7 linked regions of the Homo sapiens genome follow. The protein of the gene in region 1 interacts with the protein of each later gene in a pairwise test. Each region holds a gene or a part of one and is shown on either strand. Other genes may lie near its edges.

The links.
Region 2: the proteins of NINJ2 (region 1) and VSIG1 interact in binary tests that used the Homo sapiens proteins (3 or more experiments, as listed by UniProt).
Region 3: the proteins of NINJ2 (region 1) and ARL13B interact in binary tests that used the Homo sapiens proteins (3 or more experiments, as listed by UniProt).
Region 4: the proteins of NINJ2 (region 1) and CEACAM3 interact in binary tests that used the Homo sapiens proteins (3 or more experiments, as listed by UniProt).
Region 5: the proteins of NINJ2 (region 1) and BTNL9 interact in binary tests that used the Homo sapiens proteins (3 or more experiments, as listed by UniProt).
Region 6: the proteins of NINJ2 (region 1) and ODF4 interact in binary tests that used the Homo sapiens proteins (3 or more experiments, as listed by UniProt).
Region 7: the proteins of NINJ2 (region 1) and SLC66A1 interact in binary tests that used the Homo sapiens proteins (3 or more experiments, as listed by UniProt).

Annotation. Positions count from the first base shown.
Region 1 is NC_000012.12:653,446-656,945, forward strand, and holds part of NINJ2 (ninjurin-2), read right to left. Parts: intron 1-3,500. UniProt on the Homo sapiens protein: Its role in unclear. In contrast to NINJ1 paralog, does not mediate plasma membrane rupture (cytolysis) downstream of necroptotic and pyroptotic programmed cell death.
Region 2 is NC_000023.11:108,043,601-108,047,864, reverse strand, and holds the start of VSIG1 (V-set and immunoglobulin domain-containing protein 1 isoform 2 precursor), read right to left. Parts: upstream 2,801-4,264; 5' UTR 2,735-2,800; coding exon 2,686-2,734; intron 1-2,685.
Region 3 is NC_000003.12:94,039,155-94,042,654, reverse strand, and holds part of ARL13B (ADP-ribosylation factor-like protein 13B), read right to left. Parts: intron 2,776-3,500; coding exon 2,667-2,775; intron 1-2,666. UniProt on the Homo sapiens protein: Cilium-specific protein required to control the microtubule-based, ciliary axoneme structure. May act by maintaining the association between IFT subcomplexes A and B. Binds GTP but is not able to hydrolyze fit; the GTPase activity remains unclear.
Region 4 is NC_000019.10:41,809,321-41,812,054, reverse strand, and holds the end of CEACAM3 (cell adhesion molecule CEACAM3 isoform 1 precursor), read right to left. Parts: intron 2,091-2,734; coding exon 2,038-2,090; intron 1,733-2,037; coding exon 1,701-1,732; intron 1,224-1,700; coding exon 1,158-1,223; intron 884-1,157; coding exon 818-883; 3' UTR 501-817; downstream 1-500.
Region 5 is NC_000005.10:181,046,766-181,050,265, reverse strand, and holds part of BTNL9 (butyrophilin-like protein 9 isoform a precursor), read right to left. Parts: intron 2,868-3,500; exon of another isoform or gene 2,751-2,867; intron 2,340-2,750; coding exon 1,995-2,339; intron 179-1,994; coding exon 1-178.
Region 6 is NC_000017.11:8,338,645-8,342,639, reverse strand, and holds the start of ODF4 (outer dense fiber protein 4), read right to left. Parts: upstream 2,801-3,995; 5' UTR 2,589-2,800; coding exon 2,135-2,588; intron 1-2,134. UniProt on the Homo sapiens protein: Component of the outer dense fibers (ODF) of spermatozoa which could be involved in sperm tail structure, sperm movement and general organization of cellular cytoskeleton.
Region 7 is NC_000001.11:19,325,826-19,329,325, reverse strand, and holds the end of SLC66A1 (lysosomal amino acid transporter 1 homolog), read right to left. Parts: intron 3,082-3,500; coding exon 2,939-3,081; intron 2,796-2,938; coding exon 2,703-2,795; intron 2,100-2,702; coding exon 1,914-2,099; exon of another isoform or gene 1,756-1,913; coding exon of another isoform or gene 1,705-1,755; exon of another isoform or gene 755-1,704; coding exon 683-754; 3' UTR 26-682; downstream 1-25. UniProt on the Homo sapiens protein: Amino acid transporter that specifically mediates the pH-dependent export of the cationic amino acids arginine, histidine and lysine from lysosomes.

The sequences.
Region 1 (3,500 bases):
TAAAATGAATGCCAGCAATGATACGTGGAACAGGATGGAGGAATTAGGATTGTTTTGTTATCATAAGGTACTCACACGATCCATGAAATGGTATAGTGTTATTTGAAAGTGCACTTGGATTTGTTGTACTTGTAAACTGCAAACTCCAGGGCAATAACTAAAAAAAGTTAAAAAAAAGTACAACTGATACACTATGAATGGAGATAAAACAGGAACATATAAAATGCTCAGTTAAAACCACCAAAGGCAAAAAAAAAAGTGGAAGACAAAAATAGGAGCAAAGAATGAGGGTAACAAATAGAAAAACAGTAACAAATGTGGTAGATCCAACTATATCAGTAATCACTTTGAATGTCAATGGTCTAAGTGCATAATTGAAAGGCAGAAATTGTCAGGATGGACACAAAAAGAAGACTCAACTGTATGTTGTCTACAAGAAACTCACATTAACCATAAAGATACATATAGATCAGCTGAGTGTGGTATCTCACCCCTGTAACCCAGCACTTTAGGAGGCTGAAATGGGAAAATCACTTGAAGCCAGGAGTAAGACTAGCCTGGGCAATATAGTGAGACCCCATCTCTACAAAGAATAAGAAAATAGCTGGGTGTGGTGGTTTGTGCCTGTAGTCCTAGCTGCTTGGGAGGCTGAAGTGGGAGGATTGCTTGTGCCAAGGCATTTCAGGCTGCAGTGAGCCAAGATGGTGCCACTGCACTCCAGCCTGGGTGATGGGTGATAGAGTAAGACCTTGTATCAAACAAAAAAAGACACATACGGATTAAAAGTAAATGGATGGGGTCAGGCACGGTGGCTCACGCCTGTAATCCCACACTTTGGGAGGCCGAGGTGGGCAGATCACCTGTCAGGAGTTCGAGACCAGCCTGACCAACATGGAGAAACCCCGTCTCTACTAAAAATATAAAAATTAGCCGGGCATGGTGGCACATGCGTATAATCCCAGCTACTCCGGACCTTGAGGCAGGATAATTGCTTGAACCCGGGAGGCAGAGGTTGCGGTGAGCCGAGATCATGCCATTGCACTCCAGCTTAGGCAACAAGAGTGAAACTCCGTCTCAAAAAAAAAAAAAAAAAAGAATTATACACCACACCAACTGGGGTTTAGTCCAGGTATGCAGGACTGGTTCAACATTTGAAAATCAATTAATGCTAGGTGCAGTGGCTCACGCCTTTAACCCTAGCACTTTGGGAGGCCGAGGTGGGTGGATCACCTGAGGTTGGGAGTTCAAGACAAGCCTGACCAACATGGAGAAACCTGTCTCTACTAAAAATACAAAATTAGTCGGGCGTGGTGACACCCGCCTGTAATCTCAGCTGCTCGGGAGGCTGAGGCAGGGGAATCACTTGAACCTGGGAGGTGGAGGTTGCAGTGAACTGAGATCAACTATTGCACTCCAGCCTGGGCAACAAGATCCAAACTCCATTTCAAAAAAAAAAAAAGAGAATAAAATAAAAACAAAAGAAAATCAATTAATGTAATTAATCACACCAACTGACTAAAAAAGAAAAATCACATGATCATATTAATAGATGTAGAAAAAGTATTTGGCAAAATTCAACACCCATTCATGATAAAAACTCTCAGTACACTAGATAATTTCCTCAATTTGATAAAGAATATCTACAAAAAGCCTATAACTAACATCATACTTAATGATAAGAAAGTAGAAGCACTCCCACTAAGATTAGAAACAGGCAAGGATGTCTCCTGTCACCACTGCTTCATACATTGAATTTGCATTCAGTATGAACAAGTCTTAGCAGTTTCCCAGTCTTTGCTAGGAAGTCCTAGTAAATGCAATGTAGTTCCTTCAGAAAAAGGAAATGAAGGGACTACAGATTGGGAGTGAAGAAATAAAACTATCTCTGTTTGCAGATGACATGATTGTCTATGTAGAAAATCTAAATGAACTGACCAAAAATCTGCTGGAACTAATAAGCAATTATAGCAAGGTTGCAGGATACAAGGTTAATACATAAAATGCAATCACTTTCCTATGAAACAGCACTGAACAAGTAGAATCTGAAACTTAAAACACTACCATTTACATTAGCACCTAAAAAAGTGAAATGCCTATGTATAAATCTAACAAAATATGTACAATATCTATTATGAGGAAAACTACAAAACTGATTAAATAAATCAAGGAACTAAATAAATGAAGGGGACAAGCGCGGTGGCTCACGTCTGTAATCTCAGCACTTTGGGAGGCTGAGGCGGGTGGATCACTTGAGGTCAGGAGTTCGAGACCAGCCTGGTCAACATGGTGAAACCCTGTCACTACTAAAAATACAAAAATTAGCTGGGCATGGTGGCACGCACCTGTAATCCCAGCTACTCAGGAGGCTGAGGCAGGAGAATTGCTTCAACCTGGGAAGCGGAGTTTGCAGTGAGCTGAGATTGTGCCACTGTACTCCAGCCTGGGTGACAGAGCAAGACTCCATCTTAATAAATAAATAAATAAATTTATAAATAAATATAAAATAAATAGATAGATAGATATTCCATGTTTATGGATAAGAGGACTCACTATAGATTCAAACAATCCCAATCAAAATCAGTTGTGAATATCAACAAACTAATTGTATAGTTAGTTTATATAGAGAAGCAAAAGACCCGCAGGGCGTAGTGGCTCGCGCCTGTAATCCCAGCACTTCGGGAGGCTGAGGTGGGTGGATCATGAGGTCAAGAGATCGAGACCATCCTGGCCAACATGGTGAAACCCCATCTCTACTAAAAATACAAAAAATTAGCTGGGCGTGGTGGTGGGCACCTGTTGTCCCAGCTACTTGGGAAGCTGAGGCAGGAGAATCACTTGAACCCAGGAGGCGGAGGTTGCAGTGAGCCAAGATTACGTCACTGCACTCCAGCCTGGAGACAGAGTGAGACTCTGTCTAAAAATAAAATAAAATAAAATAAACCCAAAATAGGTGACAAAATACTGAAGGAAAAGAACAAAGTCAGAGGACTGACACTACCCGACTTGAAGAATTACTGTAAAGCGGCCAGGCATGGTGGCTCACACCTGTAATCCCAGCACTTTGGGAGGTAGGGTCTGGTGGATCACAAGTTCAGGAGTTCGAGACCAGCCTGGCCAAGATGGTGAAACCCCATCTCTACTAAAAATACAAAAATTAGCCAGATGTGGTGGCGGGCCCCTGTAATCCCAGCTACTCGGGAGGCTGAGGCAGGAGAATCGCTTGAACTTGGGAGGTGGAGGTTGCAGTGAGCCGAGATTGCGCCACTGCACTGTAGCCTGGGTGACAGAGCAAGACTCTGTCTCAAAAAAAAAAAAAAATTACTGTAAAGCTACAATAATTAAGACAATGTGTTTTGGACAAAGAATAGACAAATAGATCAATGGAACAGAATAATGAACCCAGAAATAGACCCAACTGATCTTTGATAAAGGAACAAAGACAATACGATGTAGCAGAGATAGTCTTTTCAACGAATGGTGCCAGAATAACCGGGCATCCA
Region 2 (4,264 bases), on another chromosome or scaffold:
TATATGTGTATATATATATGTATATATATATGTGTATATATATGTATATATATATGTATATATATATATATATAGAGAGAGAGAGAGAGAGAGAGAGAGAATGTCTTGTATTTTGGTGGTGATTGTTCATTCATTTAATGCCTACAAGGTGGCAAACATTTTGCTTATAGAAGGATTATTATCCTCCTAATGTACCACAGCAAAATATCCCCCAAATATTCATATTTAATCTGATAGATTTGAAGTGATTTAATTTCCAGCAACTTCATATATAATAGATTCATTTTGACTTAGGAAATAATATAATCAAATGATCACTCACTTTTTTGGATTTGAGTGCAAACTCAAAGTTCAAATATATTACTCCTTTAAAATGCATAGCATATACCTCCAGAAAATGAAACCCACATTAACATATCTTTCTAAGAGGTGACTAATACATATTTCAAATACCTAAAATGATATGCATAAATTTTTTGCAGAAGTTTGATTAAAACTCGTTTTCCTGAATTAGAATTTAACCTAAGAATTCCTAAGAAGTCATTGAAAATATTTTGATTTAAGCAAAATCTGACCTGTTTAGTTATATCAAAATCAATTTTAAATATGTATGTGAAAATGATGTCTGGATGTTTGGAATTTGGGAAAGTAATTCATTCTTTCAACAAACATTTACTATGCATCCACTATGTGTTAGGCACCACGCTTAACACCAAAAAGTGACATTCTCTCCAAAACAAGTCCAGGAAGAACATCAAATTGCACATTGATGGAAACACTATCAGTTGTCCAGATCAACTGATGAACACTGCTAATGACAGGTGTAGATTACTAAAGTGATCCTTTCTCTGACTTCAATACATATGTAAGCACAGCAAACGACAATAGAGCATACCACAATTTGCTGTACTGACACTACTGCTTTGGGCCAACTAGATAATATGTGTGTAGATATATAGTGTACACTATATACCAACAAAATCAGTTATATAGTAACTTAGGAAACACACTCTGAAGTATTTATTGGTCTTGTTCTAAAAGTCACAATAAAATAAAATCCTGACATGATGCTAAACAATTTTTTTAAACAATAAAAAAGTATACAAGGAATAAACCCAATTTTTAAAATGTAATATATACACCTGCAAATAAAAGAATAATAATTCACCCAAATCTGAGTGGTAAAATTGCAGATGATTTTTATTTTATTTTAAATTTCCATATTTCCAACCTTTCTACAATGACCATGCATTACATTTATAATCAGTAAAAATTACTTGTATGTTAGGTACAGTTAAAAAAAAAAAAAACTGTTCTTAACAACCGTTCCAAACCCTGTGCCTAGTATGGGCCAGGGCAAGGCTTCACATAGGGAAACAGGTATGATCTTAGAGGGCTGATGCAGAAGGCCCAGGGGTCGACCCAACTGGCTAATGACTGGAAACCCTTTAAGAAGAGACAAAACTTCCATATCTAAAGTTACATTTAAATGAATATGCCTGGGGAGAAGGGAAAATAGGAACATGTGTTTCCAGCTCTAGGGCCTAGTTAGGTCACTGGACAAATGGAGTATTGCCTTCTGGTGATGTTTAACTCCATAAAACATCTATGCTTAAACATTTAGTAATGAACATTTAAAGAACTATTTCTAAACATGAGATCACTTTGAAAAGTAACACTTTTTTCTAATTATAAAAATAGCATAATGTTCTTCGTAGAAAACCCAGGAAGTATGAAAAGCTGGGAAATAAAATTAAAATCATCTATAATCCCATCACCCAGAGGCAACCACCATGAGCACTTCGGTATATAACCTTCTAGTAATTTATTCTAGGCATATGTGTGCATCCTGCTTTTTCACTTAATATTTTATCGTGGGTATTTTCTTATGTCATTAATACGCCTAGTAAACCTCATTCTAACCACTGCCTAATATTACTAATGGCTTGAAAATCCTGTTTTTGGATAAACAATATTATTGTATTTACTATGGACCTAACTTATAAGAACAGATGCAAAATGTATCTGATATTTGAAAACTACCCAAGGGATTTTTGGAATTAATGATCTCTCCTGGATCTAACTAACATCAGTATTTTGATTCCAAAATTGATTTTCTTCTGTTCAGATACCTAAAATCACCCATGTTGTGCACCATAAATCACTCACATATTTTGCAAAATACAGTCTTAGGATTGGAAAACCACAACTCCTTAAGAAATATTAGACAGTAAAGTACTCAGTAAATTTCTGTTCTTCCCATATGTAAGCCAGGGCAGGCCCTCCAACCCAGGCTCTGCCTGCTAGAGCAAGTCAATCACTGAGCTTAAAGGAAACACTAAAGTAAGTAAAACAGAGACAAAATTATCCCTAGCACAAAGTTTGGTTTCTGAGTAAATTCATTTTTTTCACTTTTCAAAGTAAGTAAAGTAATAAACTATATTTTTTTCTGAGAAAATTTTCATTCAGAAGCTCCATAAAACAATAATATTATGGGCTTACACCCCTAATATATCAGCATGGCATATGTTTGCTAAGCAAGAGTTCTGAAAATTAACTCATCATACTAATCACAATTCATTTGAAGTACAGGAGATGAAAATTCTATGTAAAAATGTGGAATTTTTATTTAAAAGGAAACTCTGTTTCCAATTATATTTGGTGGTTTGGAGATCCTTTCCTTACCTGCAAGGCAGCTTAGGATCAGAAAGACCTTCCAAAATGCGAACACCATTGTGTGGAGGTTAGTTGAGAGCAGCAGGTGCCAGTAGCTTGCCTGGACTAGGCTGAGTCTCAAATTGGCTTCTTCGATCACACCGAGGTTTGCCTGGCTTATCTGCTGGGCATCGCCAAGCAAACATGCCTCTTTGGGCTTACTTATTGCGTATAGACTTTTTTCAGTACAGATTTGTGTTTCTTTGAAACACTTTTCATGGGGCGTGTTTCCTTGATATATTTGCTACTGTGTTAATAATAAACCCACGCATTTAAATTATTCAAGCTCCTTGTACACAGATTCTCTAAGTCTCATTGTTTAAAATCAATCTTACTAAAACGTTGTACTTGGGCTGGGGGATATGGTTGGAAGAGAGCCTATGCAAATAAAAGCTGACAAGGCTAATTAATTTCAAATATTTCCATGAGTCTTACAGAATTGATTCACTAACCTCCTTTTACAAATTAAGTTAGTAAATTGGTACTATATCGTTTCCTGGGGAGATGGGGCTCACGGGAAGGGCACAGGGGTTATGAAGCTAAAAAGCATTCATTTCTGTGTGAACAAACTCTGGATATGTTACTCTTTTTTGAAACACTGGCAGTTGTCACTACCCTCCACCAAAACTAGCAGTAAAATGATTTACATGCTTTTGTCTGTCGGGTTAGAAACCTTATAGCACGTATTTGCTAACGTAATTTTGCAAAATCAAGTTAGTGAATACATGCTTAAAGACTTTCTTTGGAGAAGTCTGATTTTTTGGAGAATTAAGATACTCAGTAAATGCTATAGGGTTTCCTTAGAAATGGAGGTTCACCAGGAGGGCATGGGAGGCTCCACAGGTAAGGAACTTTCATGGGAACATGAACTTCTAATAGTGTTCCTATTATGCTTAAGTTACCCGGAGAAACCTAAGGACTTTCTCTGGCTCTTCCCATGTGATTTCTAAGTCCTATCATTTCCATCTCCACAGCGACTTTCAGATGTGTTCTTTCTCCAATCTGCTGCTTCCATCTTGGTCCAGGTACTCAGCTTCCCACTTTGGCCTATCATAGCAGCTTCCTAAGTGGTCTCCCTGACTTATTCCACCTTCATCCTGTGTGCCAGCCGCAGGCCAATGTTCCAGCCCTAGTGAAATATTTCCAGTAACACCATAAATGGACTCTTTCATCAAATCCAAAGTCCTTAATATGGATTCCCATTCTTCCAATATCTGATCCTCACCTCATCTGAACTTTAGCCACATTAACTCATGCCCCTGAAAAAGTATGTCAAGATTTATTGCCTCAAAGTGTTCAGTCACATGAAATGTGTACAAATTTCAAGTGATATGTTTTATGTTCCTGTCTTTAATTTACAGGAAATGTTTGACCCCATCTTACTTTAGCCATTCCAATCTCCCACTGCTTCTTAGAAAGCCATTTTGCTTCCATCATGCCTGATTCCTCCTTGCAGCCTATCCTGTCCATGCTCATGTCTGATGCCAAACGTTGGCTCCAGGTGATTTCCATCACTAGAGTTTTCTTCTTCCTCCTCTTACTAGCCAAG
Region 3 (3,500 bases), on another chromosome or scaffold:
GAAACATACATAAATATATGTATCTATATATACTTATGTATTTGTTGTTTAAACAAAAAAGAATTGAAGTTTTTATTGAAGAATATACATTTCTTTCCATGCCAATGAATATATAAAGTGCTCAGAACAGTGCCTTACACATAGTAAATGCTACATAAATGTTAGATACAATTATTTTCATCAATTATTATTTTGAATGTTTATAGCATACCAATTCTGTATCAATGAACAAAGTATTTCCAATTTTTCACTATTTTAAAAAACAGAATCATCCTAATAGCTTTTTTTTAATTTTTTTAGATTAAATTGCTAACAGTAGAACTGTTGAGTCAGTGGGTAGGCAAATTTAAAAATGTCACATATAGTCACAAACTTCCCTTCAGAAAAAATGAATCAATGAACCTCAGGCAAAGGGTTGGGAGAGTGATTTTTTTCTACATCATATTCAATACCACATATCATGATTGACCTTTTACATCTCTGCCGTATTAATACATATTTTTATTTAACTTAGTGTTATTTTCATTTGAGTTTAAGTTAAAATTTTTATTGCCAGCAAAAATGAACTATTATTGAATTATTTTATTTTATTTTTTTTGAGATGGAGTCTCGCTCTGTCGCCCAGGCTGGAGTGCAGTGGCACGATCTCGGCTCACTGCAACCTCCACCCCTCCAGGTTTAAGCAATTCTCTGCCTCAGCCTCCGGAGTAGCTGGGATTATAGGTTCGTGCCACGCCTGGCTAATTTTTTGTATTTTTAGCAGAGACAGGGTTTCACCGTCTTGGCCAGGCTGGTCTTGAACTCCAACCACCTCGGCCTCCCAAAGTGCTGGGATTACAGGCGTGAGCCACCGTGCCTGGCCACTTATTGACATTTTTAATTTTTTTTTAGGAAACTGCCTTTGGTAACCCAATGCCCACTTTTCTATTAGATTCTCATTATTTTCATAGTAATTTGTAAGAGTTCTTTTGTGCATACGTGTCACTAGGACTAGTCACAGAGTCACATAAGACTATGTGTTCTATTTCTCACTAGAGTTTACTTCTTTTCATTTTTGCTTTTTAACTTTGTAGAATAGCTCTTTAAAAATTGGGTAGTATAAGATCTATCCACCTTTTTCCTTTATGATTTGTGGCTTGCTTGTCCTGCTTTGAAATTTTTTCCTCCTCCAAGCACATATAAAGACTTATCTATATTATCTACTAGTAACTTGAAGACTTTCACTTTTTAAAACGTATTTAAGTTTTTGATACTTTTGGAATTTAACTGGGTATACAATATTCAATAATTTTCCTTTTTCTAAATGGTTATTAAGTTGTTCTATTATTTTTTTCTCTCAGATTTGAAATGTTATCTTTATCTTGTACTAAAATGCTCATACATAAATAGGTTTATTAATATTCGTTCCATTGATCTGTCTGTCTCTTCTGGAACCAATACCTTCCAATATCTCACCATTTTAATTATCTGCAGTAATAATAAAAAAAAATGTTAGGTGCTTCTGTACCAAGAAACATGCTAAAAAAGTTTTGTGGGGAAAAAAAGAGAAAATCTGTATGGTTAAAAAAAAAAAACTATAGCTAATTTGCTTTTATTTCTTTACTGGCCATCTTCTTGAAATTGTAGTTTCAAAGCGTTAAGTGTACTTTCCCCATGCCACTTATTAATTTGGGAACTTTCTATATGTGATATATACTATGTCGTACACCACTATTATTCACTTCTATACATTGTGGGAAATACGGTGCTGGGAGAAGCACTAGAGCCTTCTACACAATTTATACCCATGGTACTATAAAATAATTAGCCATTATTTATAAAGCAAGCCTTATTATACACAGAGAATAATTGTTGTTTCAAAGTAAAAAGTACAACTTGACCTCTTCTCTCTCAATATTTTTAAAAGAACATAAAACAAAACTTGACAAATATAATATCTGATAGAATGGAGACAAAAAAAAAAAAAAACCTTCCAGGTAGGACCAGGAAGTCAGCCTAAGGTTTAGGAAGCAATGCCTCAGAAGAGGCATCGCTGCTGCCAGCCATAAAAGCAGAGCCAATGCAAACTCTGGACATGAGCAGAAAATGAAAACAAAAACACAGACGCGCACACACACAACCCCTTAACGTCTTCATAATTAAAATCTACAAATTAATGTTGGTAAAATTTCTGATTTAAAATGGAAATAAATGATATTCAGATATAGGAGAATTTATTGCAGTTTCAAACATCCTTAAGTATCCTGGAAAAATAGAAAATTGTTTATGTACCCTAATGCATTCTAAGTAAATATTGCAGATGGACAGTAACAGCAATACAGAAACACAGAAAATGTAAATAAGAGTAAATATGTTATTACTATATGAAATAAATGACAGAATAGATTTGTCAACACAGCAACTATAATAATTGCTACAGTCAAATTTATTTATTGTCATTTAATTCTGAAGTCATATTCCCCCTTTCACACTAGATTCAAAGGTAATTTAAGAGTAAGAAAAAGCAGTAAACCTTTAATCAGTCTCTCATGTTTAATTTCTTATAGAAATAATCTCTCAGAAGAAACACATCTGTTTCCCTGCCTCCTTTCCCAACTTTCCACCTTCTTTTCCAAGTTCCAACTTATAACTTAAGATACAAAAATTACATTTGCCATCATTCATACCTCAATGATTACAGATGCTATTGGCTGGAAAGGATTCGTTGGTTCTGGGTCCAACTCAGCCAGACCACTGGTTCCATCGAGTTCAGCCTGCTCCTGTTCATTTTGTTTTCTATCGTTTGAGGAAAAATAATTGAAATTTCCTTTGAGAAAGTGCTGAACCATGTTAAAGAAAACTGCAATAGGTATAAGGCTATTACATGTAGTAATTTAAACATCTGGACATGGTTTTGAATTACTGAGAGCATTTCAAAAATCCTTATGCAGGTAAGAGGCTGCTTCCTCCCATGTAAAGACTAATCATTTCAATTAAAAAAATGCTGATAAAAATGACATTTCCTATGAGTGACTTCTTAATATCAACAGTGCAATTATTCTTCCATGTGCCAAGGGTATTACTGATCAACTTATTAATTACCCTCCAAAATCAATGCTGTCCTCTTTACTGGTGTTAACAAATAGTAATTATTCTTTTTTTTTTTTTTTTTTTTTGAGTCGGAGTCTTGCATTCTCGCCCAGGCTGGAGTGCATTGGCACCATCTCGGCTCACTGCAAGCTCCACCTCCCGGGTTCACGCCATTCTCCTGCCTCAGCCTCCTGAGTAGCTGGGACTACAGGCGCCCGCCACCAGGCCTGGCTAATTTTTTGTATTTTTAGTAGAGACGGGGTTTCACCCTATTAGCCAGGATGGTCTCGATCTCCTGACCCTGTGATCTGCCTGCCTCTGCCTCCCAAAGTGCTGGGATTACAGGTGTGAGCCACCGCGCCCAGCCAAATAGTAATTATTCTTATTAATTCTTTTCTTAAGGGCTAAGTCTTCTCTTACAAAACTAGGAA
Region 4 (2,734 bases), on another chromosome or scaffold:
ATCTCCTGTGTGGAGTGGAGGATTGTTCAGTGAGATCCACTCCAGGGGGTAAAGTGGGAACTGATGGGAAATGATGGGCTAGAGTCCCAGGTAGTGTCTGGGAGGATTTTACTCCAGGACTAAATTCTGGGTCTGTCCTCACCTTGATTACTCTGACAGGCCCTCTGTGTGTCCCCTGATATGGGTAAAGATGTCCTGAGCACTGGCCTTTTGGACAGAGAAGAAACCCAGTGGCCAGGGCTAGGCACCGTGGGTCCCTGGGGCAGTATGAGCACAGCCAAGCGCTCAGCTGGCTGGGCAGGTCTCCTGTGAATCCTGCCCTTTCCTGTGTAGGGTCCACCCCAGCCTGACTCCCAACCCCCTATTTCTGCCTCCCAGGGAAGAGAGACTGGGGTTGAAATAAGTTGGAGATGACATTTTCCTTGTGTGACCCAGGAGAGAATGGATATGGAGTTTCAGGCGAATTTTTGCTAAGTTCCCACTAGCAGAAAAACAGCTAATGAGAGGAAGGGTCCCCTTTATTCAGATCCTTTCCAAGTGACCCCAGGTGGGCCACAGGCCCATTCACTTTCCCTGCAAGCCCCCGCTTTCTGCGGTGATGAGAGGCCTTTGTCCTGACCCACCCAGGGCCTAGGGCAGGCTGTCGAGGTCTCCAGATATTCATCAGGGACCCCCATCCCTCCCTGCCCCCAGACACCAGTGTCTTCTCAGGACTTATAGCTGGTTCTCTGGCTCAGGCTTCATGTCCTTCCCCATCCCCAGGGCTGGGGGCCTTGGGGACTCTCCATCAACACACAGGAGCAGCTCCTGGAGGAAGCTAAGAAGCCACTTCTGCTTTGTGGTCCATCCGGCAGTAAATGTTTGTGTCATGTTTTAGCAATTCCTGTTAAAACAGAGAAGAGGCCTGGACCCCTCTAGTCTCCTCAGAACAGGGTGTGGCGTCTCCCAGGCTCTGGGCCCATCCAGGGCTGCTCTGGGGCTGAACCTGGCTGTGCTCAGGGGGTTCCTGCTCCCAAGCCCCTCCCTCCTCTGCTCGCCACCCCCGTTCTTATTTTCACAGCAGTTTCCTGAATCTCAGAGCTCAGCCGATGCCAGTAGGGGAAGATCCTGGGTCCCCTGGGGCCTGTGGGACCAGAACATCCGTGGCCCACACTCACCTCATAGATGGAAGCTGCTGTCCTGGGGTTGGGTAGGGGGGCCTGGGCAGTGGAGAGAGGGGACATCTGTGGACAGGGAGGGAGGGTCATGGAGGCCCAGCCTGGAAGTTTCCTGTCTCTGATTGGCCAGGATTTACTTCTCTGTGTTTACTTCTGGTCATTTCCCCTCAGGAGTGACCAGCTCTGCCCCTGAGCTCAGCCTCCCAGTGTGGACACAGCACCCTGACCCTTTTCCTGGCTGGGCCCACCCTGCACCCTTGTTAATGTGGGCCCCTGACTGATGGTCCCAGTGTCCACTCTGCACCTGCTGCACTCCAGGGGTCTCCTCAGGTGATGGAGGGTCCCGGGGAGGGGTCAGCACAGGGCGTGGGTGGTCCTGACCCTGTAGGGAGGCCCAGCTCCTGGCCAGGGCAGGGCTAGCCTTGTCCTGTGTGTTTTGGGGGAAGGTGGGTCTGTTCTGTGCTGGGGGGCTGATGGTCCCTCTGCCCAGAGCCTGCACAGCTGGGACCCCAGTAGAAAGGGGCTGGAAGGGGACAGGCTTACCGAGAAGGCAGAGCTGTGGGAGGGACCACGGCCTGGAAACAGAGACAGGAGTGAGCAGCAGGGTGGGAGGAGAGCCTTATCCCCTCTCCAGGAAGGCGTAGGGGGTCCTCAGCTCTAAGATACCTGAGCAGCTGAGGTTGGGGAGGTGACCCATGACCCAGAGCCCACAGGTGAGGGCTGACCCAAGCAATTGGGGTCCCCTGTGTGATGTTTTATGAGATCCTCCTTGCAGCCCCCGGGAAAGGATCAGAGTCTGCCTGGCAGTGACTGGCAGGAGCGGACACTGTGGGGCTGTCCTAGGGGTTCCCAGCCACACCTGGGCTGAGAGGACACTCACCAGGGGCAAGGGCTTGGGGCTGCTGCTCCTTGAGGTCACGCTGGATGCTGGTTCTAGGAAAGGTCAGGGTCATTTGGGAGGGTGCCAGGTTAAAAGCCACAACTTTGGAGTTCGAACAGGGGACAAGAAGGGAAACCCATTTTCAAGGATGGGCATGGAGACCTCCTGTCTCCCTCAGGTTTGTGTTAGGGGGAGCCCAGCAGAGGGGAGTTGAGGAAAGGCTTTAGGAACCCACATCTGTCCTGAGCAGAGGGGAAGGACCCTCAGGCAGATGCCGGGCCAGGAGAACATTGACCCAGGGACCCAGGAAAGGGACTGAGGACCCAAGGAAGGAAACAGACCACGAGGGTTTGCCTGAGAGGAAGGGTCAAGTCCCCAGAGGCAAAGCAGGGCCACGTGTGCAGGACACGGAGGGGACCGCAAGTGTCTTGGATTCTCCTGGAACTCAGTGTCCCTGCTGTGGCCAGACCCTGCACTCAGGGCTGGTGATGCTGAAATGGGACAGTGTCCTTGTCCTCTCTCTCAACCCCTTGGCAAGAGACACAAAGGACGCTCCAGGACATGCTGTTCTGAGGCCCAGGTTCTCCCATCTCACACCTCAGGGCCTATGGTTACCACATCAGCCATGGGGGGCACTGACCCCACCCAGCCTGTCCAGGCTGGTCCACTCCCCATTGTGTGACGGTGCCCAGGATCC
Region 5 (3,500 bases), on another chromosome or scaffold:
AGACTGAACAGGTCCTGGGCATCCCAGACGATGGCTTCAAACTCTGGAGGCAGGCACTGTCCCTGGTGGTCTCTCCACTGAACCTTAGGCTTGGGGTACCAGCCACTGGATCTGAGCCTCAGCTGAATGCCTCCTTCCTTGAAGCCCTCAAGGGAGAGGTGAGGGTCTGAGCCCAGCCCTGGTGGAGGCAGGAGGAGTGGGAAAGGTCAGGCTTCTTCTGAGAAATCACGCATAACATTCCTGCCACTGTTCAGCATTTGCAGTCACCATAAAGCATCATGAAGTGTGACTGCTATTAAGACGTGTGTGGGCTTGGCGCTCCCCGCCCATGGACGGGAAATGACAGTCTAAATCAGTGGTAGCATGTGGGGACAGTAATGCCCCTGAGGGACATTTGGAAATGTGAAGGGGGTCATTGGGTGGGGAAGGGCTCCTGGCATTTAATCATGTTAGGCAAGGGACAGTTTCCCTAGAATGAAGAATAGCAGCACCCTAAATTCTAATAATTAGAGTTGTGACTCTTCTCCTTCTCTTGAATTCCCCCAGAGCTCTAGTGCCTGCATTATACACACTCCCTTATCTCTCCATCCTTGTGGAACTAGCATTATATTTTGAGTATGCAAAACATTAATGTGGCATAAATGCCAATGCTGTACAGAAATGTGTATCAGGAAAAAAGCGCCATCCTTCCCGTCATCACACCTCACCCTCAGCGGCCAATCTCATCAGCTTCTAGTTTATCCTTCCTATGTTCCCTTTTGCAATGTTTCTCCTTCTTTCTTACAAAGCAAGTGTATGTTATCGAACCTTGCATCTTACTTTTCTCTCTTAACAATACTAGAAATCACTCTGCATCCATTCAGAGACCACCTCATCATTGTTTCAGATGCATAATACAGATTACTCCATTGGGTGGATAGAGCATACTCAGCTTTTATGCTTGGACATTTAGGTGGTTTCCACTATTTTGCAATTGTTTTTAAAAAGCTTTACAAAGATTAAACTCATACATATGCTTTTTTCATATTGGAGGTATCGGAGGTGGAGTAAGTTCCTGGAGGTGGGATTGCTGTGTCAGAGGGTAGCCACACAGCTAGTCCTCTTAAGTATTACCAAATTTCCCTGTCCGGGAGCTTTCCAACTTTGAATTCCACTAACATAGTATAAGACAGCTTTCTTCTCCATAGCTCCATTAACAGTACATGGAAGAGCTTTTGAAATTTTGCTAGTCTGACAGTTAAAAAAAAATTGCATTTTGACATAGCTTTGATTTGCCTTTCTCTCACTATGAGTAATTTTGTTACTCAATATATTATATATTATATATATTATATAATATATATTATTTTTATATTATATATATTTATATATCATATATATGATATATTATATAACTAATATAATTATATAATATTATATAACTAATATAATTATATAATATTATATAACTAATATAATTATATAATATATAACTATATAATTAATATATAGCATACTATATATATCTATATCTATATATATAGATAGATATATATATAGATATATATATATATTTCAAGACAGAGTTGTCACCCAGGCTGGAGTGCAGTGGCAAGTCAAGCTCACTGCAGCCAGATCCTTCCACCTCACCCCCCTGAGTAGCTGGGACTACAGGCACGCACCACCACACCTGGCTAAGAGATGGGGTCTCCCTATGTTGCCTGGGCTGGTCTCGAACTCTGGAGCTCAAGTGATCTGCTTGCCTCGGTCTACCAAAGTGCTGGGATTACAGGCTTGAGCCACTGTACCCGGCCCTTTTCATATATTTAAGGGCTATTTGTGTATTTTTTGGTGAACTGTTTGTTTTGTTTGTTCATTTGAGAATGGACCTATCCATCAGCTTTTATGTTTTTTAAAAATCACCGACATTCTTCTGTTCTCTGTGACTCCACCTCTACTTGGCAAAGCACCTGGATCTCCCTCTCCTCTGCAGGGCCTTAGGTCAGTCCACGCACCTGCTACCTCCAGTTCCCAGAGAGCTTCGCCAGAGAAGTTGTCGGAGTGGAAGCGGCAGCCATATGTGCCCTTGTCAGAGGGGATGATGCTGTGAAGCTGCAGGACCACGCTGCCATAGGCGATGTCGTCCTTGACCAACTTGGTCCTGTTCCGGAACGCCGGCATCTGCCTGCCAGGGAGCTCCTGCTGCTCCTGGTACAGGTGTACCACATTGAAGGTCTGACTCCGGAACCAGCGGATCTCCATTTGCTGGGCATCCAGCTGTGGCCATAGGTGGCACGGGAACTCCACCTCCTCCCCGACGAGGGCCAGGATGGGATACTCAGGGCCTAGCACCTTGACCTCTAGGATGACAAGTCAGAACAGGCAAAAGCAACCCTCATCCAATTTTTAAAAAAGTTATCACACCCCTTTATAGCTGAGGAATCTACAGTAAACCATAAAAACAAGAAAGGTGAGATACTCTACAGGACAACTGGCCTAGATCCTTGAACAAGTAATTTTTACGAAAAAACGTTGAGTGCACGATTAAACAAATACACAGGTGACATCACAACCAGATTTGTGGTGCTGAGCTGGTAACTGGTTTCATCCAACCAGGTACAAATGTTATTTTGGGGACAATTATGTAAATATGACCAAGGCATTAAGCGAAATGGAATCTTTGATCAAAAAAGCAAGTGTCAAAATAATCTGTAGAATATTATCTTAAGTAAAAAACATACGTATTTGCATAAATGTGCAGAGAAAAATACCTGAAAGGAGACATCAAATTGCTGATGGTGATAATTTCTGCATGATGAGAATAGATATTTTCTCATTTTTGCTTGTCTGATTTTCCAAGTTTAAAAAATAATTCACATGTACAGCTTCTACAAAGGGTATCAAAAATCATCCATGAGGGCTTCCTGCTCCACAGGTTTTCTTATCAAAAGGCCAACCAAATCCTTCCTTTGAGACTCATTTGTTGGGATCTTTCATTTGATCACCCTCCTCTTTGACGGCTTCTTCATGGGGCCTCTCTGCTCCCTGTGGTCTGGTCTGTTGTCTGCAGTTCCCATGAGAGTTGCTGCTCCTGCACAGTTCTTCCGCACGCACGGTTCCCTGCCACCCCACAGGCACTCACTCTTCTCTCTGGCCTCTGTACTTCTCCTCTCCTTTCTTTCCAAGTTCAGCTAAAACTCCATCCCAAAGCTCTCTTGTCATGGACACCCCTGTCCTGCACTTGGCCCACAGGAAATGGAGGGACCTTCCTTTGTTCACACTATTTGAGGCACCTCATTGCCCGCTGGGTGAGTATCCAATACCCTTCCTACAAGTTTCCCTCTCCAGGTTCTCTCCGGCTGTCTCTCTCCACACACCGATGTCTGACTGTTTCCCTGGGCACACCCTACCTCAGCTAATCCCCTACCTGTCAACTTCCTGGGGAACGTGCATCCTGTAAGCCTCTGCTCCAACTATATTCCCACTCTACGGCTCTCCTCAGCTTTCCGGGAACAAATCAT
Region 6 (3,995 bases), on another chromosome or scaffold:
TCAGTATACAATCTTTTGTATTCTTTGAATTTTCACTGTTTATACACACCTAATCCTAATTAAATAAATTTTAAAAATCAGTGATGTTTGGCCGGATGCGGTGGCTCACGCCTGTAATCCGTGAGCCGAGGCACTTTGGGAGGCCGAGGCAGGCGGATCATCTGAGGTCAGGAGTTCAAAACCAGCCTGGCCAACATGGTGAAACTCCGTCTCTACTAAAAATACAAAAATTAGCTGGGCATGGTGGTGGGCGCCTGTAATCCCATCTACTTGGGAGGCTGAGGCAGGATAATCGCTTGAAACCGGGAGGCAGAGGTTGCAGTGACCTGAGACCGCAACTGCATTCCAGCCTGGGCAACAAAGCAAGACTCTGTCTCAAATAAATAAATAAATAAAAATAAAAAGCCTGGCTGTCTTTGAGTAACTCCGTAGAGCAAGGCGCCTATGTGAGTTTTAGAGCCAGGCACACCTGAGTTGCAATTCCAACCCTGCCATTATTAGGTTGATCCATGTGAAATTCTCCTTTTGTAGGTGAAAAGCAGTCAAATATTAGCATGTCATTTGGTTCAATCTAAATAGCTTTATGACCCTGAGCAAGGTACTTAATCTCTCTGAGTCCCAATTTTCTCATCTCTAAAATAGGGATAATTATCCCTATCCCTTAGGATTGACTAAGGACTAAATTGAACAAATGGAGTAAGTGTACAATAAAGGATAGCTTTTGTTTCCCCAAATTTATTATAATAAGGACATAATATTTTCATAATGCTTTCATAATTCATTATATGAATATTTTCATATTCATATGATAAGGACATAATACTTTCAGAAAATAATAGCTGTGTGATTTTTTTCATGCTAAGGAGAGTGAAAAAATGGAAATAAGGGTCAAAAGCTCTGGTTTTCCCCAGGAGCAGGGAAAGAACTCCAAATTCCTGAGGGGTGAGGGAACAGCATAACCAGAGACTAACAACAATAAGAACCAGGTGTGGTGGCCACGGCCTGTAGTCTGAGCTTCTCCGGAAGTTAAAGCAGGAGGATCCCTTGAGCCTGGAAGTTCGAGGCTGCAGTGAGCTATGATTGCACCACTGTACTCCAGCCTGGGTGACAGAGTGAGACCTTGTCTCTAAAAAAATCAGCGAAACAAACAGAAAAAAACAAGGATGAGGAATGAAGCAGCTGCAAGAATTCAGGGAAAGAAGGAACACAGAAGCCAGATGTGGAAAAAGGAAAATGATCCAGAAAAGCAAGGCCTGAGGCAGAAGGAAAGGAGAATGTGTGGGATCAGGGCCTGAGAGGGGACATTGCAAGGAGTCCTCTCAAAGCTCTGGGTACACAAGACTAAGGAAACCCCCATCTCACTGGGGCTCTTGTCCCTGGTAAATTAGGCGATTAATGAATGATTCTCTTGTGCTGAGTCCATGCCCCTCGTAACTTTTTTTTTTTTTTGAGACAGAGTTTTACTCTTGTTGCCCAGGCTGGAGTGCAATGGTGCGGTCTCGGCTCACCGCAACCTCCACCTCCCGGGTTCAAGCAATTCTCCTGCCTCAGTCTCCAGAGTAGCTGGGATTACGGGCATGTGCCACCACGCCTGGCTAATTTTTTGTATTTTTAGTAGAGACGGGGTTTCACTATGTTAGCCAGGATGGTCTCGATCTCCCAACCTTAGGTGATCTGCCTGCTTTGGCCTCCCAAAGTGCTGGGATTACAGGTGTGAGACGCAGTGCCCAGCCTGATTTTTTTTTTTTTTTTTTTGAGACAGGAGTCTCACTAAATTGCCCAGGCTGGACTCAAATTCTTGGGCCCAAGCAATCCTCCCACCTCAGCCTCCTGGATAGCTGAGACTACAGGTGTGCAGCACCATGCCCAACTCTCTCACAGCATTCTTAGAAGCACAGATTTGGCTCTGGGTTTTATCAAAAGCAGTGACATTTTCCATTGCACCAATCAAATCTATTTAGCCAGGCTACAGGATGAGAAACGATCATCGGAGGTCTCAGTGCCAGTGGAACCATCTTGCAGGCCAAAAAGTAAAGATGACCAGAAAGAGGGAACAAGAATACATCCAGGGTGCAGATACAGAGGCCAAGACAGGCTGGCGGCCTGGGCTGGGATGGGGGGTGGAGGGGCTCACCTTTCCCATTCTCTAAGTCAGAACAGCTCCTGGATTTGTAAAAGTGCAGGAGCCCCATGGACATAACGTGGGCTGATGTGTGGATTCTGTTGCTGACATCCACGGGCCAGCGCTGGTAGAAGAGGCTCCTAGAGAGGTCCAGCCATTTCTTGGAGAAGGCCACGACCAATAGTAGGATAAAGGCAACCAGGCTGAGCTCAGAGGCCAACACCTGGGCCATCCAGCGGAAGCTGTGTGTGATTCTCCATTGAAAGGGCAGCGGAGAGTTCTGGCGCTGGCCCAAGGACCTGTTACTACTGAGGGAGAGGGTGGAGGACAGCAGTCTCCCATCTTGTCCCAGCTCACCTGTGCCCCATCCTGCCTCCCCACTCTTCCTTTCCTTTCCAGGTCTCTGATGTTGGTCTCTTTCTCCTTCTGACCTGGGGAACTCATTCCCAGAGTACTCTGCATCCATCTTGAGCACCACTTCACCCTCTGTCTCCCCTTTCCCTCACCAGACTCAATTGTCTCTTCTCATCTTTTGGATATTTTCATCAGCTGCCACCATGCAGCCTGAGGTCTGAGAAAGAATGAGGAAGTCTAATAACAGACCTCGATCAAATAAGAGACTCTTGATCCAAGAGAAGGCCCCAACCCATTCAGCAGGCCAGGTCCCCTAACTGCCACGGAATTTTCCTGGGGCACAGTGAGATGGGGGAGGGAAGCCAAGTCTTCAGCAATTTTTTTTTTTTTTTTTTTTTTTTTTAGAGAGAGAGACAGGGTCTCCCTCTATTGCCCAGGCTGGGATGCAGTGGCACAACCTTGGCTCACTGCAACCTTGAACTCCTGGGTTCAAGTGATCCTCCCACCTCAGCCTCCTGAGTAGCTGGGATTACAGGATTGTGCCAGCATGCCTGGCTAATTTTTCAATTGTTTGTAGAGATGGGGTCTTGATATGTTACCCAGCCTGGTCTCAAACTCCTGGCCTCTGCCAGGCACGGTGGCTCACGCCTGTAATCACTGCACTTTGGGAGGCCGAGGTGGGTGGATCACCTGAGGTCGGGAGTTCGAGACCATCTTGACCAACATGGAGAAACCCCATCTCTACTAAAAATACAAAATTAGCTGGGCGTGGTAGCACATGCCTGTAGTCCCAGCTACTCAGGAGGCTGAGGCAGGAGAATTGCTTGAACCTGGGAGGCGGAGGTTGCGGTGAGCCGAGATCGCACCATTGCACTCCAGCCTGGGCAACAAGAGTGAAACTCAGCCTCAAAAAAAAAAAAAAAAAACTCCTGGCCTCATGAGATCCTCCCCACTTGGCCTCCCAAAGCACTGGGATTACAGGTGTGAGCCACCTTGCCTGGCCTGTGGCTCCAGCTCTAACTCTTTCCGGAAATCCTGTTTCTCAGGCCACAGCTCAGAACTGTGGATCTGACACCTCCCTCCAGCTTCTGCCTCCCTTTACATATGAGCAATGGTATGTGAGAGGCCCTCCTGTGGTCTGCATATGGTTAATTTGTCTTCACCAAACCTCATGCTGAAATTTGCTCCCCAGTGTGGTGGTGATGGGAGGTGAGAGGGCCTAGTGGGTGGTGTTTGGGTCATGGGGGCAGATGCCTTGTGATTGGATTAACGCCTTCCCTGAGACCTCACTCCATTAGCTCCCCGCAATAGCTGGTTGTTAAAAAGAACCTGGCGCTGTTACCAAGCAAAAGTGCTCGCTGCCAGATGTGCATAGAAGCCAATACTCCAATACTAGGGCACTAGGTTTTGAGAAAAGGAAAGCTTTATTGTGAGCTGACCCACGAGGATACGGGAATCCAGCTCAAATCTGTCTCTCTTTGCTGGTCTTAAGGCAGTACTTTTATTAGAAAAGGTTTAG
Region 7 (3,500 bases), on another chromosome or scaffold:
GGGGAAGGAGCAACAGAAGCAGGTCTCATGGGGAGGTACCGTTTCCTCGGTTATCTTTTTTATTTTTTTGAGACGGAGTCTCACTCTGTCACCCAGGCTGGAGTACAGTGGCACGATCTCGGTTCACCGCAACCTCTGTCTCCCAGGTTCAAACAGTTCTCCTGCCTCAGCCTCCCAAGTAGCTGGGACTACAGATGTGTGCCACCACACCTGGCTAATTTTTGTATTTTTAGTAGAGATGGGGTTTCACCATGTTGGCCAGGCTGGTCTCGAACTACGGACGTCAAGTGGTCCACCCGCTTCGGCCTCCCAAAGTGCTAGGATTACAGGTGCGAGCCACTGTACCCGGCCTGTTTATTCAGTTGTCTGGAGTTGACAGGACAGTCCTGAGTCCAGCAGGCTGTGGCTGTGGCCCCTGGGGTGAGTAGGCAGAATGAGGTAGGTGGTAGGAGGGGCAGCCTCACTGTCTCCTGAGAGGCCCTGGGGTCTCCGCTCCAGCCCCGGCCTTGAGGCTTCGGGGTCTACCTGAAGGTGTGTTCCTGGGGGGACGGTTCGGTCCACGGAGGATCCAGAGGCCACCCGCAGGCTGATGCAGGGCCGCCGTACCATCACTGTCCACACCTCCTCCTGCCTGGTGTGGCATCCGGTGGTGCCTGTCCTCCTGCGCTCAGCCTGGTTCTGGTCAGCTGGGGAGGAGGGGCTCAAGCTCCGAGGCGGCGGTGCTGCGCCTGTACACCAGGAACTGGATGGAGATCTGGGGGTGCCGCCGTTAAGGCCAAGCTGAGCAGAGACTGGGTTGGACCTGCCCCTGGGGGCCTTCGACTCCTGGGAGCTGCCTCCCTCTCCCCTCCCTCCCACCCCCACGCTGCAGGTGGGAAGGGCCAGCCATAACCTCCCAGCCGCTACCTTAGCTGTGCCCTCCACTCAGAACTTCTGCCCGGCTCCTCAAGCCCTAGCCAAGCTCCATCTGTCTCCAAGCCTAGCACTGACTTCTCCTTCCCGTGGGCAGCCTCCCTTGACCCTGGCCCAGGATCTTCGCTTGCTCTCAGCTGTGGCGTCCTGGAGGCTTCCAGGTGGCTGGGCCGTTTTGGGGCACAAGAGCCTAAACTTTCACCCCTCCCTGCGCCCGGCAGGGACTTAACAAATATTAAAACAAAGGCCATGTTTACTTGCTCCGAAATGAGACCCAGGTAACGCTCTTTACAGCCATTCAGCAAACACTTTCTGAGCCCTCACTGAAAACGGGGTCCTGTGGGGAGTGTTTCCAGATACCTCATCTTACACAACATCCTGACGAGACAGTGGCTGTTAACTGAGGTGAAGACACGGCAGCACAGAGAGGTTGACTGTGTGCCCTGCGTCACACAGCTAGGAAGCAGGGGAGGAGCCAGGATTTGAACCCAGGTTTGTCTGACCAAGTCATGTGTCTCTCCACACTCCAGCTCTCGTCTGCACAGCCTAGAACATTCCTCTCCTGCCTTCGCCTGACTTCTCCTACTCTGTCAAGTCACAGGTTCAATGAGACTTATAGGGGCCTTTGCTGCCCCTCTAACCAGGACGGTCCCTGGCTAGACGCTCTTGTTGTTTTTCTCTGCAGCACTTGGTGCCACTGCAATGAAGTAATTCTTTGATGATAGCGTTGTGTCCTCTCTGCGCCCCGCTGGGCTGTAAGCTTCTGGGGCACTCATGGCTGTTCTTGCTCACTCACGGCTCCAGGGTCCAGCTGGGTGCCTGGCACACAGGAGGTGTGCACGACTGGGTGAACAGATGGAGGGAGGGAGGGAGGGAGGGAGGGATGGATGGATGGACGGATGGATGAAGGGAGGAAGAGACGGATGAGTGCTGACGCTGTGTGCAGGCAGAAGCTTCCTTGCCCACACCCCGCCACCTGCCCCACACGCCCTGAAGGATACGATGGTGTCGAGCAGCAGCACGCCCAGGCTGCCCACAAGCCAGGGCAGGTGGTGCAGCAGGTAGCTGCCCTCGCTCTGGCCCTCCTCGGGGTTTTTGAGCAGCACGCTCAGCCCATACAGCGTGTTCCCCAGCATCACCAGCGCGAACAGAGAGTAGGAGATCCCCTGGGTGGACTTCCGGAGGAACTGGGGCAGGAGGAGGTCAGGTCAGAGACCTCGAACAGGCCTCTTGTCACTCTGGATTGTAACTGTCCACATGTCCACCTGCCCCACCACAGTGCACCTGCTCTGAGCCAATCTTTCCCTGGGTGCCCAGGGATATGGGCCCGACACACAGAAGAGCCTCCTCCCACCCACAGACAAGCCCCCCCAGGCCCCTGCCCAGGTCCACGGGAGACCGTGGCTGTGCCAGGCCTGTGGCCCCACACCACCCTGCATTCCACCCCACACAGGCTCTAGCTGCCCAGCAAGCCTCCCCTCCCCGACTCCCCAGCTTCTCCTCTCCCCTCAGGCCTCCAAGCTCAGCCCCTCACCTTCCCCTGACCTCCCACTCCCCCAAGACACACATGGGCCTCTTGTAGCCTGGCTGGCAGGCCACGCCACGCCCATTTTCCAGAAGCAGAAATGGAGGCTCGGAGATTGGATTAACTTGCCCAAGCCAACAGCGGGAGTAGACCAGACTTTCTGAACCAAGGCTCCTATGCTGTGCTACTCCTTAGCCCAGAGGGCCCGGGTGGCCAGGCCAGCTCTCCTCTACTCGGCCCCACCCAGCCCCTGCTGGAGGCTCACGTTGGTGCGGATCTGAGGCAGCCGGGAAAGCAGGTACAACACGCTGGAGATGGAGCCGATGACGAAGCCAATGACTTCCTGCCGGGTGAAGGGCTGTGGGGCAGAAGGGGGCACTTGGTGTCTCGTAGGAGCCAGAGGTGATCCCCCACCCCATTTAGCACCCATGAGGCTGTGCAGGGGAGAGCCCTGGGGATGAGCCAGCCTCCATCCCTTCGACCGCCACGCCCACGCCTCACCTTGCTGCCCGACTCCACGGACAGGAGCGCCCGCCCCCGGAAGGCTTCCCTAGGGGCAGCCACGGGCCCAGCAGCACTCAGCAGCGGTGTGGCGCACGCCATCCCCATGAGGAACAACAGCACGGAGTTGATGGGGGCAGACACTGCACACAAGGCAGGGGGAAGCTGAGGTTAGATGGCTGAGTGGCAGCGGTTGTCGGGGGAGGGTGCTAAGTCCTGGCCTTGCCCCTCAGGGGCTGTGTGACCTTGGGCAAGTGACCTAACCTCTCTGAGCTTTCATTCTTCATCTGTCGAATGGGTACAACAACAGTACCCTTCTCCTAGAGTTATAAAGGTGAAACGCTGAGGGCAGGGAGGTCAGGAGGGGGTTACACGAAGCAGGAACGCTGATGAGACAACTTCCTCCCCAGGTCCCTCCCCGTGTCTGTATAGCCTCAAGCTGACCTTGTCTCCTGCTCCTCCTGAAGGCTGGGGCAGAGGCAGCCTGTGTGACTTGCCCTCGTTTCCCCAGCTCCAAGCCCAGGGCCGGACACAGAGGAGGAGCTGGAGCTGTGTCTGCTGA